4 linked regions of the Homo sapiens genome follow. The protein of the gene in region 1 interacts with the protein of each later gene in a biochemical or structural test. Each region holds a gene or a part of one and is shown in the gene's direction. Other genes may lie near its edges.

Region 1 (3,500 bases):
CTTTGCCCTTGTATCTGCTCATCCTCCTCTCTCCCCTCTCCAGGAGAGACGTTTCAGAGCCCTTGCCTCCTTCACCATGCCGGTTGCCGCCACCAACTCTGAAACTGGTAAGAAGGGGGTGAGGATGTTAGCTTATTTCAGTGGTTCAGAGGGTGCCAGGCGAGGACTTAGGGGTGGGCACTTGCACAGCTCCAGATAAGAACCAACTGGCTCCACTGCTGTCCACCCTACCACTCAGCCATTCCTTCTGGCAGCTGCTGTGGCCATCTCCTCTGTGTGGGTTCCTGTGCTGGAACGGAGAAGAGAAAGAATAAGACCCATACCTGCTCCAGTGTAGGGCTGGAGCACAACTCACCTCCGTGGAGGGCAGGGGATGCATGCTCCAGAGGTGACCCGTACTATTGCTGGAGGGCAGTGGCATAGGACCAGGCCTTCAGGAGGTGGCCCCGGAGCTGGGCCTTGGAGAATGGCTTGGGGGTGGAGGGATTACAGCAGCACAGCCTGGGGCTGAGAAGTCCATAATCGCTGCCCACTAGGCCAGCATGTGCCAGAGGTGGACAGGGGGTACTGGGGACCAGGAAGCTGTGAGTGAAGGAACAAGAATACCAGGTTAGGATACCTGGACGTGGCTCTGTAGGAGGCATTAGGACAAGGGAGTGGGCCACTCAGACAAACTAGCAAAGCCTCAGTGGCAAACTGCTTAACCTCTTGGAGCTCGCATTTCTTCTTCTGTAAAGAGGCTGCTGTGAGACGCAAAGGCTGTAATGGGAGAGCACATTACTTTTAGGAATAGTCATAATTATTATGCTGCTGTTGCTGCCGCTGCCACCAAGTTGTTGTTGTTGTTTTTGAGACAAGTTCTGGCTCTTTAGCCTAGGCTGGAGTGCAGTGGCGCAAGCTTGGCTCACTGCAACCTCTGCCTACCAGCCTCAAGTCATTCTCCCACCTCAGCCTCCCAAGTAGCTGGGACTACAGGTGTGCACCACCATGCCCAGCTAATTTTTGTATTTTTCGTAAAGACAAAAATGTTGCCCATGCTGGTCTCAAACTCCTGAGCTCAAGTACTCCACCCGCCTCGACCTCCCAAACTACTGGGATTACAGGTGTGAACCACTGTGCCTGGCCTGAGTTGTTATTTTGGCATTAACCCTGTGTCCTTGAAACAGTCACCTCCTTTTGAAGACCTGAGATTTCCCTAAGATGAGATGATGGGACAAGATCAGTGTTCTTAACTTTTTTCTTTTTCTTTTTTTTTTTTTTTGAGATGGAGTCTCCCTCTGTTGCCCAGGCTGGAGGGCAGTGGTGGGATCTCGGCTCACTGCAACCTTCACCTCCCAGGTTCAAGTGATTCTCCTGCCTCAGCCTCCCAAGTAGCTGGGATTACAGGCACCTGCTATCATGCCCAGCTAATTTTTGTATTTTTGTAGAGACTGGGTTTCACCATGTTGGCCAGGCTGTCCTGACCTCAGGTGATCCACCTGCCTTGGCCTCCCAAAGTGCTGGGATTACAGGCATGAGCCACCACACCTGGCCTGTTCTTAATTTTATTGGTCCTGAGTCACTTAGAATCTGGTGACAGCAGTGAGCCCTCATCGTAGACATATACATCCATGCACAAAAGGTATATTCTACTCTAGGGGATCATGGATTCCCGTAGTGCACGCAGGACCCCAGAAGGTTAAGTTCCCTGTGCTAGAGGCCCTCTGAGGCCCGGGCAGCTGGGAACTGCTATGGTTCTGCTCTGAGTTGTCTGAACTTCCCCCTGCCTGGATGCCTCCCTCCCATGCAGCTCCTTCCCTTGCTCTAGGCCCCACTACTGCCTCTGCCAGAGGTTCCAGGGCTGCCACTTTGGGTAGAATGATTCCTCTGTGCCTCCTCTCCGAGAAAGTGAAGGGAGTGAGCCAGGGCCTAAACTGTGGTACACTTGTCCAGGAAAGGCCTCTTCTCCTTGCAGTGGAGGGATGGCACCAATGTCCCCAGCTTCTGCAGCATCAGAGGGCTCAGTCCCCCATCTCCTGTCCAGCCTGCTGGGCTCCCTGGGGTCTCCCTGCCTCTTTCAGCCTGCCTAGGCCCCACTGTAAGCTGCTTAGGCATTAATTAAACCCACCCCTGAGCCTGTGCTTAATGGCCTCTCCAGCCGGGACTGCCCAGTAAACCCACCAATAGTGCCTGACTGGGGCGTAGGAGGAGGAGCAAGCCCAGCAATTTGGCTTCGTTGTTGCAGACCACTTGATGGGGGCGTGGTGGGGGAGGATGGGGGACAGGGAGTGGAGCCTTGGGGTGTGGCGGTGGGTTCTGCTTCCTCAAAGGACTCCTGGGGCTCCTGCTCCCCTTCATGTTGTTCGAGGGGCTGCTCCTGGCTTCTCATATTCAAAGGAAGAAGTACAAAGTGTTTTTCTTCCTTCAGGCAGCCTCTGTCCTATCCTGAGCTACATTAGCTCCCAGCTTCAAAAATCTAATGGTGGATTCTGCCCCTTATTATCTGGTGGTCATTATACTTCCCACAGGATAGAGAGACAGCTGTGTCCCTGCCTCTGAGTTCAGGCTCCCCTTCCCTCCTCCTCCCCTGGGAGATCCCTGCCTTGGACTCTGCAAAGGGCAAAGCTAATAAGATCCTTTTTCCGCCCTTCCCCATGGGTCAGTATGGTTGAAGGGAGGGAAAGGGTATGGGTGTATTCCTCTTGCAGGGAGACCCCATATCTACTTTGGGTAGAGTCAGGGGCCCTTTTCCTGAGACTTGGGAGATAAATGGACAGTGGCACTGGGCTGAGAACTTAGAGATCCTGAACCTGGCATCTCCTGACCTGCAGCCTTGCTCCCTCTTCCCCTGTCACCAGATTCCCTCCCTTTTTTGGATCAAGGCTGGGATATGTGGCTGCTTTCAGGTGGAGCTGTCCCTTTAAATCTCTCCTCCATCCCTGGGTTACTGTCCTGGTGTGTAATTCTACTGTCATGGCAACCAGGGGTGCAATGCGACCTGGTGCCACTCCTCAGGGAATGTCTGAGTGGAGGCTGCAGTACCCTGATGGTGGCCTCTTGGGCACAAGATCTCAGAGGAATGGGGTCACCGGAGCGGAGCTGAGTCCTTCCCTTCTGCCCACACTTTTCCCTGTGTGCAAATGTGCCCTCATTTTTCCTTTCTGGGGAACTGAGTTCCAAGATGCCTGACTTGCTTCCTGGGCATCATCCCCTTCATTAAGAGGAAGAACTCATGGGAGATGGGGGAGGGGAAGAAGCTGCTGTGAGGCGAGGGGTAAGCAGGGCTGGGGCACCATCCCTACCCACAGCGATGCCACCTCCCCCACGTACCCTGCCTCCCAGTGGCTGACCAAGGGTGGGTAGGGGGAGGCGTCTGAGGCTTGAGGTATTTGCCCCATGCCCAAGTGAGGCTGCCTCCCGGTGGAGGGCTGAGTCGTTCTTGGGGACTTCCTTAGACTGAGGGACTATTGTAAAGGAAACAGGGCCTGGAGAGGGGACTGAGAGCAGAGGTCAGAGGGCAT
Region 2 (4,173 bases), on another chromosome or scaffold:
AAAATAGACATTTAATATAGTAATGTTTTTAGCCACAAAGAAGAGTGAAGGCAATTTTGACGTGGGAGAAGAATAAGTTCTCTCCCTTAGTGTTTGATACGGTGACTATATTGGGCTAAGATAATGGTTAGGAGAGAGAGAAGAGAAAAGGGGAGAGAGATTGGGTTCTAAATGCACGAGAAGAAAGAAATGAGGGCAGTTCAGAACAATAACCTGTGAATTTTTTCACCACTTACATACCAAGCAAATTGCATTTCCTTCTACACTGTCTGGTTCTATTCCAATGTGTTTTATTTAAAAGTTTTATCTTTCCCAATGAAAGTTTAAGTTCCTTGGAATCTGGGTCCAAGTATCTTCCACAGAAACATACTTCTCTCGCTAGTTTATACTCTCTGTAGGCACGTACTTGGCTTTCTTGCTCACTGCTGAATGCTGGTGCGTAGCACCATGACTGGCACAGAGTAGATGTTCAATAAGTATTTGTTGTATCTGTGAGAGAATGTGTTAAAATAACAAAACTCAAACATAATAGTGCAGCGACTATGCCTTGATGTGTGTGTGTTTGGGATTCAGCACATTTGTAGAGGTAAAGCAGTTGGTTTTTTAAAAAATTAGTGCCATTCAGGATCACTTGTTAAATGGATATTGTTTAAAGGACTTAATTAATTAATGCTGGGGATACTGTTAAGAAATCATTCTAGAAACTAGAATAAATATTGCCAAAGTGAAACACTTTGGTTTTGATACAAATTATTGCCTTAGTTTCAAGATGTAAAACAAACAAAATCTTTGATGGGATTAGTAGAATTTATTTGAGTTTAATTCAACTTTTTGTTTTACATATAAAAATGTGTGCCTGTATGTTATACATCTGTACATATATTTCCACATATATCTATACCTATTACGTATAGCTACATATAGATACCCATTTATATGTTTAATCTCCTAAGTCTTACATCTTAGTTTGCAATCGTGGGATTATTTTCCAGATCATAGAATTGTTTGTTATTTTTACTAGGTTGTTTTCATGATTAAAATTCCGTGTCTCCCCAGGTTTCCATGTATCAGCAGTGCCCCAGAAAGTGTTTCCCTTCCTGAGACTCTAGGGAAGCCTTGGAATGCAAATAACTTGAAAAGAGAGCCTGGCCAAAAAAAGATTTTTGAGCCTTGGTAGGGTTAGTGAAGCAGGTTTTTAGTACAAACACAACTCAAAGTATGTGTGTTATTAAAAGTAGCTATTTTCATGGAAGTCTTTTGGTACTATTTGTTTTGGCTAGAGAAGTGAAAAGCTTTCTTTTAACCATGTGACCATTATTTTGCAAGATCATAACAAACAATTCTAATATCTTTAATCTCACTAAAGAGTCACTAAAGTTATTTGATGTACCTTTTGAAATAGAAAACCAACAACTAAATCTTCTCTAACACCATGATTTTCTAATCTGTATTAAAGCGTTCCAGGTATTTTTGTAATGCAATGGATTTCAATTATGTTGTTCATTTTCAGCACTTACTTCAAAAGAATGATGCTTTACAATTTTGTAGTTAATTTAACATATTTTTTTGTTTGCTTGAAAGGGTAGAAGTAAGACATATCAAGATTTAAAACATAAATAGCTTGGAACACCCTGAAGAGCAACATGGGAGAAACTGAGAAAAGAATTGAAACCCATAGAATAAGATGTCTTTCCAAGTTGAAGGTATGGAATTTTTGTATGTGGATATATGTGCATGTACACTAGTTTTTAAAATACGACAGTCCTGGTAAAATTGCTCCTATCTGCATGAAGTGATCTAATATTAATGCCATATTGCCTGTTCTATTGATAATTTCTTGCTTTAAAGAAGTTGGTTTTATAACTGAGGGTGTGTCTACACAGGATTATTGATTCAGGCAAGTTAGTCCTAAATGGCTTTGAGAGACTTAAATGGAAGACAGGATCCTAAAAATTTCCAGGCACACATACTGTGGCAGGATTTATTTTTCTGGATCAAAGGCCATGCTCACTCTTGCAGGGTTTCTAACCCAGAGAAATGTGGGAGTCACTCTCCGAAAATGGCTCATTGCACAGAAATGCTTTGTTGATTTGTATGCAATTACCCAGCAAAACAAATGTTTTCTTTAAGCTTTGGCAACATAACAATAATTTCCTGTAAGAAAAATGGCCATTTTGTCAGCTGTTCTGATTTTTTTTTCTATTTCAGAGAAAATTCTGTTTTCTAGCTTCAAAGTCATTTATATTCAAACAAATTTGAATTTATGATAAACCAAGGGATCTGGACATTTGTCCTGATTCTATAGCTAGTGCCTGCAAGTGGTTTCAAAACTAAGACACTGTCACTCATTTTCTCCCTATCAGAAGTTTGTTTTCCATTTATATGTGTGTTGGGGAAATTTAAACATGTATACAAAATTGGAGAATTATGATATAAATCTAAAAAAAATAGACTTGCCTGAAATGGTATGTTAATTAAGAAAAACTTTTTGTGCTTCAGTTTTCTCATCTGAAAAGGGTAATAGCAACATTCCCACCTTATAGGATTCTTTTATGTTTGAAACAATGACTGGAATATTGTAAACTTTCAATAAATATTAGCTATTAATATTAAAAGCATTTGTGGAGAAAAGTCAAGTGGTATTTATAAACAAGAGGTCTTTAATTTTTGATTGCTTTGGAGTTTAGCAAGGTTAGATATTAATGTGGATGTTAAGACAAAATGCTGTAAGCACAAGTTTATCAGGTAAAAGTGAGAGGCAATTGCTTAATAGCAAGTTAGGTTTCTCTGTTTCTCTGAACTTAGAAATATACTCATTAAGCAAAATTCATTAGGAAGCATGAAAGAACTATTTTTAACAAATTTGCTTTAAACTTTGTTGTTGAAATAAGTTGAAAGGGCATTATTGCTAGAAGCTAGTAGGACCAGCTTTATAAATACAGAGATTATTTAGCACTAGACATGAGTCAGAATAGCCACTGATTTCTTTCACTCTGCGAATAAAACCAAACTAGTTAGGCAACCCATGTGTTTTAGGGGAAAAGCAATGAGGTCATGATCCATCTAATTTCTTTTCTTAACATGTAAAGTAGAATAAATTATTTTTCCAAATTTGATTTGTACTTGATTTAGTAGGACTTGCTTTTAAATATAAAATCTGATTTATAAAACTAGGTGAAAATAGTTTGCTCTTAAGAATACACTCTGAGAAGGTTTATAGTGGGAAGAGAGAATATCCACAAATGGTATTCAATATAAAAAATAGCTAGAGATATGGCCATACTATGCTGTAGTCAATCAGTTTTGATTCATATTAAGAATGCTATTCAAATTTCTAGGTCCTTTTCACATAAATTTCTATTTAGGTCTCACAAAAATAATTGATAAATTTTGGCTTAGATGTATTGTGTGGTGTGAATGTGTCCCATCCAAATTCCCATGTTGAAATCCTAATTTCTAAGGTGATGGCAGTAGGAAGTGGGGCCTTCGAGAGGTGATTAGGTCACAAAGGTAAAGCCTTTATGAATGGGTTCAGTGGCTTTATAATAGAGGACTAAGAGAGATTCACTGCATTTTCTGCCATGTGAAGACACAGTGAGAAAGATGGTAGTTTATGAATCAGTATATACAGCCTCTAAGCCACAAATAAAATTCAACCCTCCCACCCCCTGCTCCCAGCACTGAATGGACCTCCTCTTGGTCAAGAGCCTTCCAAAGTTAGTCTAAAAAACAAGTTTAGGCTGTTATGGGAAGGAGGTGTTGGACATGCCTCTTTATACCCTCCTCTCTTTTGGAATTCAGGAATAACCAACCATCATTAACATCAACACAGACCTTAAGTCTGATAAGAAACATTTATATCCATTCTCTATGAAGCCTGCGTATCTAGAGGCTTTATCTGCATGATAAAACCTTGGTCTCCACAAGCCCTGATTGTAAACAGGAAATAATTTTTTATTATTGATAATAACTCTTCCAACCAATTGCCAATCAGAACATTTTAAAATCTACCTGTGACCTGCAAGTTCCTGCTTTGAGTTATCTTGACCTTCCCAATTGAACCAATGTAAATCTTACATGTATTGATTGATGCATTATGTCTTCCTAAAATATATAAGAGCAAGCTGTACTCCACCTTGAACACATGTTTTTAGGACTTCTCTGAGGCTATAC
Region 3 (4,159 bases), on another chromosome or scaffold:
TTGTAATTACATAAGACCTTTGAGGTTATCTGAGCAAAATAACTAAATTCATGAAAATATAAATCCATCCGATACCATACACACACATATATACCAATAAATAATAAGATTAAGATGAGTAAAATGTAATTGCTAAACATCTCAAGAGTCTTCAGACTCATGTATGTTTGTTAAACTTTCTGGGCAACTGAAGTTAACCGGTTTTCATTCTAATAGAAAATTCTGCCATTAGTAAAAATGGTAAGACTTAATAAAACATTTGAAGCTGCATGATGAGCTGTGACTTCTCCACTCCTCAGTTGTCATAACCCCATAGGACTATGGAATCTAATGCTAATTTGGATAATGAAAAAATGCCACAGTGGCCATTGTACTCTTTTATTTTTTGAAATTTCTTTAAATGTATCTGCCACTGCACTCCAGCCTGGGCAACAGAATGAGACTCTATCTCAAAAAAAAAAAAAAATGTATCTGCTACCCATCAAACAAACTGTATGTATTGGATTTGAAACTGCTTGCCCATGAGATATTCATTTTTAATAAAACATTTTTAAAAGACTGATTTTATTAAATACATTTTAAAACTTTAAACTTTTTCTTAATGGTGACTACATTATTGAGGTTTCTCTATCCTCTGTTAAATTCCAAAAGACACCCAACAAATTATGTTAGTTCAGAGAATCCTAAGTACTTAAGAATATGTAGCCTGAAATCAGTCCCAAATTTATTAAAATATAGCACCCACAATAGTGGAAATGTCAATGATCTATGAACAGACCTTTCTTGTTCAAAGCAAAATACTGTATCGGACAAGTTTCATCTTGTTTTTAGTTTTACCCATCTTCACAAAAGCTACATATTTCTAACACAGGGAAAGTGGAAGTGACAAATACCTAAATTTAACTGAATTTCATTTTTTAAACAGAACTTTTCAGGAAAAATAAAAGCAGGATGGTTTTTTCTAAATACCTGATAAACTATATTGAATTATTTGTGCCTTGAATGTGATACCTTTTTAAAATGCAGAACTGTCTATTTCTAAAGTGGAAAAACTTTTCCAAACTGCTTCTTCTTGAAAGTTCTACATTCTGCTTCAAAAGAAATGCCAACGTGACTCAGGGCCCTTGACATATCACTAGAGTAAAAAAGTACCATTACAGTGAAACTTGTGTTTATAATTCTATCAGCTTTTACATCACATGACTGCTATCACATTATCTCTAACACTGGAGTGTTAAAAAGCCTGTGTTCTTATTGGTGAAATAACTGTTTTGACTATCATCAAGTATCTGAATACTGAGTGTTTCTGGCCTTTGACACTGTCCTATACCTTATAAGGTGTTTACAGGTGAAATAGGAATCTTGCTGGCACTCCGTGCACTTAATGATTCCTAAGAACTCACATGAACTGAGCAAATGAGATAGAAACATGGCATTCTTAATTATACTAATTACCTGCTTTGTGATTATTCTTGCTACTTCACAGCCTTGCCAGACCCCTGATGACTTTGTGGCTGCCACTTCTCCGGGACATATCATAATTGGAGGTTTGTTTGCTATTCATGAAAAAATGTTGTCCTCAGAAGACTCTCCCAGACGACCACAAATCCAGGAGTGTGTTGGGTGAGTAAGTCTCAAAAAACACGTTTAGATTTCAAGATTGTCATGAGACTAGGACATATAAACTGTTAACTTGTATTAATATCTAAATCATTTAAAAAAATAAACTCATATGTATTTTTAAGTTGCATATGGTTAATCTTGCAATCCTTCTTTAAAAGAGAGCTATAACAGCCCTCTATGTATAATGAAACAACCTCCAAGTGCAGAGGATATGCATGCTTTTCATTAATATATTAATTTAGATTTTGCCTTTAAAAAACAATGCCTGAAGTCACTTGAAAAGACATTGTGGCCTATTTTTCACTACAAGCATACATAACCCACATGTATTTCTATCACACACATGTATTTTGTTTTAAACACAGATCTATTATTTAATGCTTTGTTTAAAATAGACTATAGTTGAATTTTTTCTTACTAACATTTTTTTTCAACACTGCATTCATTTCATTCCAGAAATAGTCTAACTCTTTCCTGATAAATTAAGACCCTCCTCAACTCAAAGTGCTCCTTCCTGCTGGATGAACACTTTGTGTCGTGAGAGCTTACCTATGAGAAAGACATTTCACTGGCACAGTATAATGTGGAAAAGTAAAGCTGGGTGGAAGGTGTTGCAAATGGATTTTCCTTAAGGAGAACAGGATATTCTAATTCTCATTTCAGTTTTGGGACAAGCTAATTTTGTAAACTTAGGTAGATCACTTAAACTCTGAGTTCCAATTTCACTGTTGTGTATATTTTCTCATCTGTAAAACAAAGGCCTGGATAACCTCTAAGGACACAGGCAGCATCAGCTGCTGTTGCTATGGAATGTGCTCTTCATGCTTCCTTCCAACTCTAAAATTCTCATTCTATTTTTATGTTTCTATGTCTAAGTTTAATCTTGTTTTTTCTCTTACCTTTCTTTCTTTATCAACGAAGTATTTCCCAAGGCCTCTAAGAATACTTTTAGATAAAATGTGATTCCCTGTCACACTAAGATTTCTTGGCATTCTCCCTAAAAGTTGGGCACTTTTAGCTATTGTCATCATAATCATTGATTAACAGGAATACCAGAGAATGGTAAAAAAAAAAGTTAATAATTAATGAAGATTTTCAGAGCACTATGTTGGCACACAAAGAATGACTGCAGAGTTGAGGCCCACAATTGCAGGCCAACAATTAAGGATGGAAAACACTAAATAGTTATTTGACCAAATAAGGAAATTTCCTATTTTAAAAAATCACTCCGTTGAAAATCTCTTACCTTTTTGTCACTCATCAAGAGAAATGGTACTCACTCAACATTGCACAACTACTTATTAATTGCCTACCTTACCTGTACCCTATTATAGGCACTGGCACACCAACATGAATACACCAAGGAGGTTCCAACTCTAATGGAGCTTACATGTGCTGGACTCCGAAAATATTATACAATTTAATGTCAGACAACCTATTCGTTTACCTTTTTCTCTTCTATGTTTCTCTTTTTTTAATTGATACGTATTAGTTTACATATTTATGAGGTACATGTGGTATTTTGTTATATGCTTAGAATGTGTAATGATCAAGTCAGGCTTTTTGAGGTGTCCACCACTTTGATTATTGTCACTTCTATATATTGGGAACAATTCAAGTCCTCTCTTCTAGCTACATTGAAATATCCAATACATTGTTGCTAACTAGAGTAACTGTGCTGTCAAACGATTGAACTTCTATCTTTTATCTAACTATATGTTTATACCCACTAACCTACCTCTCTTTATTCCCTCTCCTACCCACCCACCTTCCCATCCTCTAGTACTTTTATAATGTCAGCTCTCTACCTTTATGATATCAATGATTTTAGCTCCCACATATGAGTGAGAACATATGATATTCGTCTTTCTGTGCCTGAGTTGTTTCACTTAACATAATGGCCTCCAGTTTCATCCATGTTGCTGCAAATGATATGATTTTATTCTTTTTTTATGGCTGAGTACTATTCTGTTGTGTATATATATCACATTTTCTTTATCTATTCTTCTATTGATGGACACAAGTTGATTCTATATCTTTCCTATTGCAAATAGTGTTATGGTAAGCATGTGAGTGCAGGTATCCCTTTAGTATACTGATTTCCTTTTCTTTGAATAGATACCCAATAGTAGGATTACTGGACTACATTTATCATTTTTAGATTTTTGAGAAATATCCATACTCTTTCCCATAGGGGTTGTACTAATTTACATTTTCTCCAATAGTGTAGATGAGTTCCCTCTTCTGCATCTCCTTGCCAGCATCTGTTTTTGTTTTTGTTTTTGTTTTGTTTTTGTCTTTTTAGTAATAGCTATTCTAACTGGGGTAAGATAATATCTCATTGTGGTTTCAATTTGCATTTCTTTGATGATTAGTGATGCTGAGCATTTTTTATATACCAGTTGGCTATTTATATCTTCTTTTGAGAATCATCTGTTCATGTTCTTTGACCACTTGTTAATGAGATTTTGCTTTTTTATTGTTGAGTTGTTCAATTTCATGCATATTCTGGATATTAGTCTGTTGTTGGATGAAT
Region 4 (3,500 bases), on another chromosome or scaffold:
GGTCTCAGAGGATGTTCTCCTTGGAGGCACAGCTCATCAATCTCTTCTTGAATGTTGCAAACAATGGGCCAGGAACAGAGAGGGATGGAGGAAATGAAGAGTCATTAGCCACAATAAGTGTCCTTATGAACAGCTCTGATGTCATTTATCTCCACCTTCCAAGAATCCTGGATGGGCTTGCATAGGCAAGTGACAAATATTGTTAATTAAGTCTTTGAAGATAATGGCAAATGTCACTAAGAAAGATTTGTGTTGAATATTACATCAACTCAGCGTTCTTTCCTGGCCACGATGGCCAATGTGAGGTGACATGAGGTTAGGACAGTCATGCCTGTGCTTGGATGAAGCGGAACTCTGTTCTGAGTATGCAGAAGTTAGATTAGAGATTCTCCAAAAACCTTTTTCCAGATGGATGGCAAGAGTGAGGCAGTGGCCCCCAATTCTGGAATAAACCGGTGTTCTTGGCTGGTGTGAGACCATGTATTAGACTCTAAAGACGGTCAGAAGCAGTAACCACAACACTCTTTGTTCTACAATTCTGAGTGTGCTGATAATATGGGCAGGAGTTAGAAGGGAACTATTTTTCTGACTTTTTCTCCCAGGCTGTCCCTGCAATATCTACCATTTCATGAAAGAAACAATCTTAAACTAAGTTATACAGAGTACTTGATTCATGTTTCCTCTCTTTTTTATCATCCTGATTCTACCTTTATGGCAGAGAGAATAAGCCATCTCATGATTGCCTTGGACCAACCATCCCAGGCCAGTAGAGAAAGATACACCTATTTCCCCAGGAGCAGAGAGGTTGTCCATGGTGGGGGCTGGGTGGTGAAACTGCACAACATGGCCAGTTGAATCTTCCTTTAAAAAGGTCCTATCATCAAGTGGGGCACATAGCATGATTAGAGGCCAGGGGTTGCCTTTATTCACTTCTGCTTCCTCCTCTGCCTAATCCCTGTACCTGAGGGAGCCTTACAGATCCCCCAAATCTGGGTGATGGAGCAATGAACCATATAGGCCCATGTTCCCCTGTATTATCTCATCCTATACCTACTTTTTATATTTGTCAATAAAAAGTCTATGGCTGTCTTGTTTTTTGCAATCCATCCTTATGAATGCTCTACTACTAAAAACATAGAACAACCTTTATGGGACAATTGGAAATTTGAACACTAACTCTACATTTAATATTAAGGAAATATTAAACTTCTATTTAGGAGTGAGAATGGTATTGTGAAAATATTAGGTTTGTCTAAGAGTGCATGGCTTTTAGATCTACGTAATAAATATTTTCAGATTGAATGACATGATGTCTAGGATTTGCTTCATAATAACATGGGAGGGATGGCAGCCAGAGGACATATGGATGAAACAAGATTGGGCTTGAGCTGATAATCTTTGAAGCTGGGTGACGAGTTCACTGTACTGGGTTTGGTTTTTGGTTTGTTAGTTGTGTGTATGTTAAAAATGTCCCATAATAAAAGCTTTTTTAAAAAGAATTAAAATTGGTTATTTTAAATTAATATTAGAAAATTGTATTTCTCAAAAATATTTTATGTGCAATTATCATGATTTATAATGTTAAATGGAATAGGAAGATCTAAAACATATAAGGTACAAAGTACTGCATGTAAAGTACTGCATATACACATTTGCTTTTATATGTACATGTAAGTGGAAGAAGAAATGATGCAAATGTAAATTATGGTTGCCCCTGACTGGTGAGAATACATATTATTTTTCTTTATTCATTGTTACATTTTTGTACCTCCCAAATTTTCTAGAGAGAAAATAAACTATATTTAAAATTTTATAGTTATTTTTATATATAAGCCATGCTTGTGACATATTATTAGATTTTTTAAAAAAGATACAGAACTATTTGTGAAAAAGAACCTCAATTCTGTTTTAAAATGTGTGCACATGGTAAGTGTGTGAATGTATCTAAAATGAACAGCATCAAAAAAAGAAACAAATCTATATTCTAGATTTTCATAGACAAAAATAAATAAATATATAAATAAATAAAATGAACAGCATCAGTTGTTAATTGTGGCTATCTCTAGATGGTGACGTTATTGGACAATTTTTAGTTTATTTGCCTCTCTGTGTGTTTCTTCAATTAATAAGTATAATATTATAATCAGAAAAATGTGGCATAAAAAATAAAGCTAGATTTATTATACTTCTTTATAAGGGTTAGCTATATAGGGCAATATAACATACAAGTAACTACATAATATATACTTACAAAACACATATGTAAGTCCAAAGGAATTTTAAATTCTCAAAGTATGTTAAGCTTTTAAACGATGATATAAAATCTTTTCAATAGCCAATATTATGTGATGATGCTCTTGCCTTCATATACTTAATTCCTTAATAATCATGTTTCATTTTCTGTTCAACTCCAGGTATATCCATGCCAATACCAGTCTTTGGGCTACAGGACGATTCGAAGGTCTTTAAGGAGGGGAGTTGCTTACTCGCCGATGATAACTTTGTCCTGATCGGCTCTTTTGTGTCATTTTTCATTCCCTTAACCATCATGGTGATCACCTACTTTCTAACTATCAAGTCACTCCAGAAAGAAGCTACTTTGTGTGTAAGTGATCTTGGCACACGGGCCAAATTAGCTTCTTTCAGCTTCCTCCCTCAGAGTTCTTTGTCTTCAGAAAAGCTCTTCCAGCGGTCGATCCATAGGGAGCCAGGGTCCTACACAGGCAGGAGGACTATGCAGTCCATCAGCAATGAGCAAAAGGCATGCAAGGTGCTGGGCATCGTCTTCTTCCTGTTTGTGGTGATGTGGTGCCCTTTCTTCATCACAAACATCATGGCCGTCATCTGCAAAGAGTCCTGCAATGAGGATGTCATTGGGGCCCTGCTCAATGTGTTTGTTTGGATCGGTTATCTCTCTTCAGCAGTCAACCCACTAGTCTACACACTGTTCAACAAGACCTATAGGTCAGCCTTTTCACGGTATATTCAGTGTCAGTACAAGGAAAACAAAAAACCATTGCAGTTAATTTTAGTGAACACAATACCGGCTTTGGCCTACAAGTCTAGCCAACTTCAAATGGGACAAAAAAAGAATTCAAAGCAAGATGCCAAGACAACAGATAATGACTGCTCAATGGTTGCTCTAGGAAAGCAGCATTCTGAAGAGGCTTCTAAAGACAATAGCGACGGAGTGAATGAAAAGGTGAGCTGTGTGTGATAGGCTAGTTGCCGTGGCAACTGTGGAAGGCACACTGAGCAAGTTTTCACCTATCTGGAAAAAAAAAAATATGAGATTGGAAAAAATTAGACAAGTCTAGTGGAACCAACGATCATATCTGTATGCCTCATTTTATTCTGTCAATGAAAAGCGGGGTTCAATGCTACAAAATGTGTGCTTGGAAAATGTTCTGACAGCATTTCAGCTGTGAGCTTTCTGATACTTATTTATAACATTGTAAATGATATGTCTTTAAAATGATTCACTTTTATTGTATAATTAT

The links.
Region 2: the proteins of MPP2 (region 1) and SLCO1A2 interact in a test that uses a peptide from one of them, tested with the Homo sapiens proteins (one large-scale study listed by IntAct).
Region 3: the proteins of MPP2 (region 1) and GPRC6A interact in a test that uses a peptide from one of them, tested with the Homo sapiens proteins (one large-scale study listed by IntAct).
Region 4: the proteins of MPP2 (region 1) and HTR2A interact in a test that uses a peptide from one of them, tested with the Homo sapiens proteins (one large-scale study listed by IntAct).

The regions. Positions count from the first base shown.
Region 1 is NC_000017.11:43,901,037-43,904,536, reverse strand, and holds part of MPP2 (MAGUK p55 subfamily member 2), read left to right. Parts: intron 1-43; coding exon of another isoform or gene 44-76; coding exon 77-107; intron 108-2,972; exon of another isoform or gene 2,973-3,253; intron 3,254-3,500. UniProt on the Homo sapiens protein: Postsynaptic MAGUK scaffold protein that links CADM1 cell adhesion molecules to core components of the postsynaptic density. In CA1 pyramidal neurons, required for synaptic KCNN2-containing channel function and long-term potentiation expression.
Region 2 is NC_000012.12:21,332,118-21,336,290, reverse strand, and holds the start of SLCO1A2 (solute carrier organic anion transporter family member 1A2), read left to right. Parts: upstream 1-1,373; 5' UTR 1,374-1,464; exon of another isoform or gene 1,465-1,581; 5' UTR 1,582-1,643; coding exon 1,644-1,703; intron 1,704-4,173. UniProt on the Homo sapiens protein: Na(+)-independent transporter that mediates the cellular uptake of a broad range of organic anions such as the endogenous bile salts cholate and deoxycholate, either in their unconjugated or conjugated forms (taurocholate and glycocholate), at the plasmam membrane.
Region 3 is NC_000006.12:116,826,284-116,830,442, reverse strand, and holds the start of GPRC6A (G-protein coupled receptor family C group 6 member A isoform 1 precursor), read left to right. Parts: upstream 1-1,359; 5' UTR 1,360-1,429; coding exon 1,430-1,623; intron 1,624-4,159. UniProt on the Homo sapiens protein: Receptor activated by multiple ligands, including osteocalcin (BGLAP), basic amino acids, and various cations. Activated by amino acids with a preference for basic amino acids such as L-Lys, L-Arg and L-ornithine but also by small and polar amino acids.
Region 4 is NC_000013.11:46,834,554-46,838,053, reverse strand, and holds part of HTR2A (5-hydroxytryptamine receptor 2A), read left to right. Parts: intron 1-2,414; coding exon 2,415-3,217; 3' UTR 3,218-3,500. UniProt on the Homo sapiens protein: G-protein coupled receptor for 5-hydroxytryptamine (serotonin).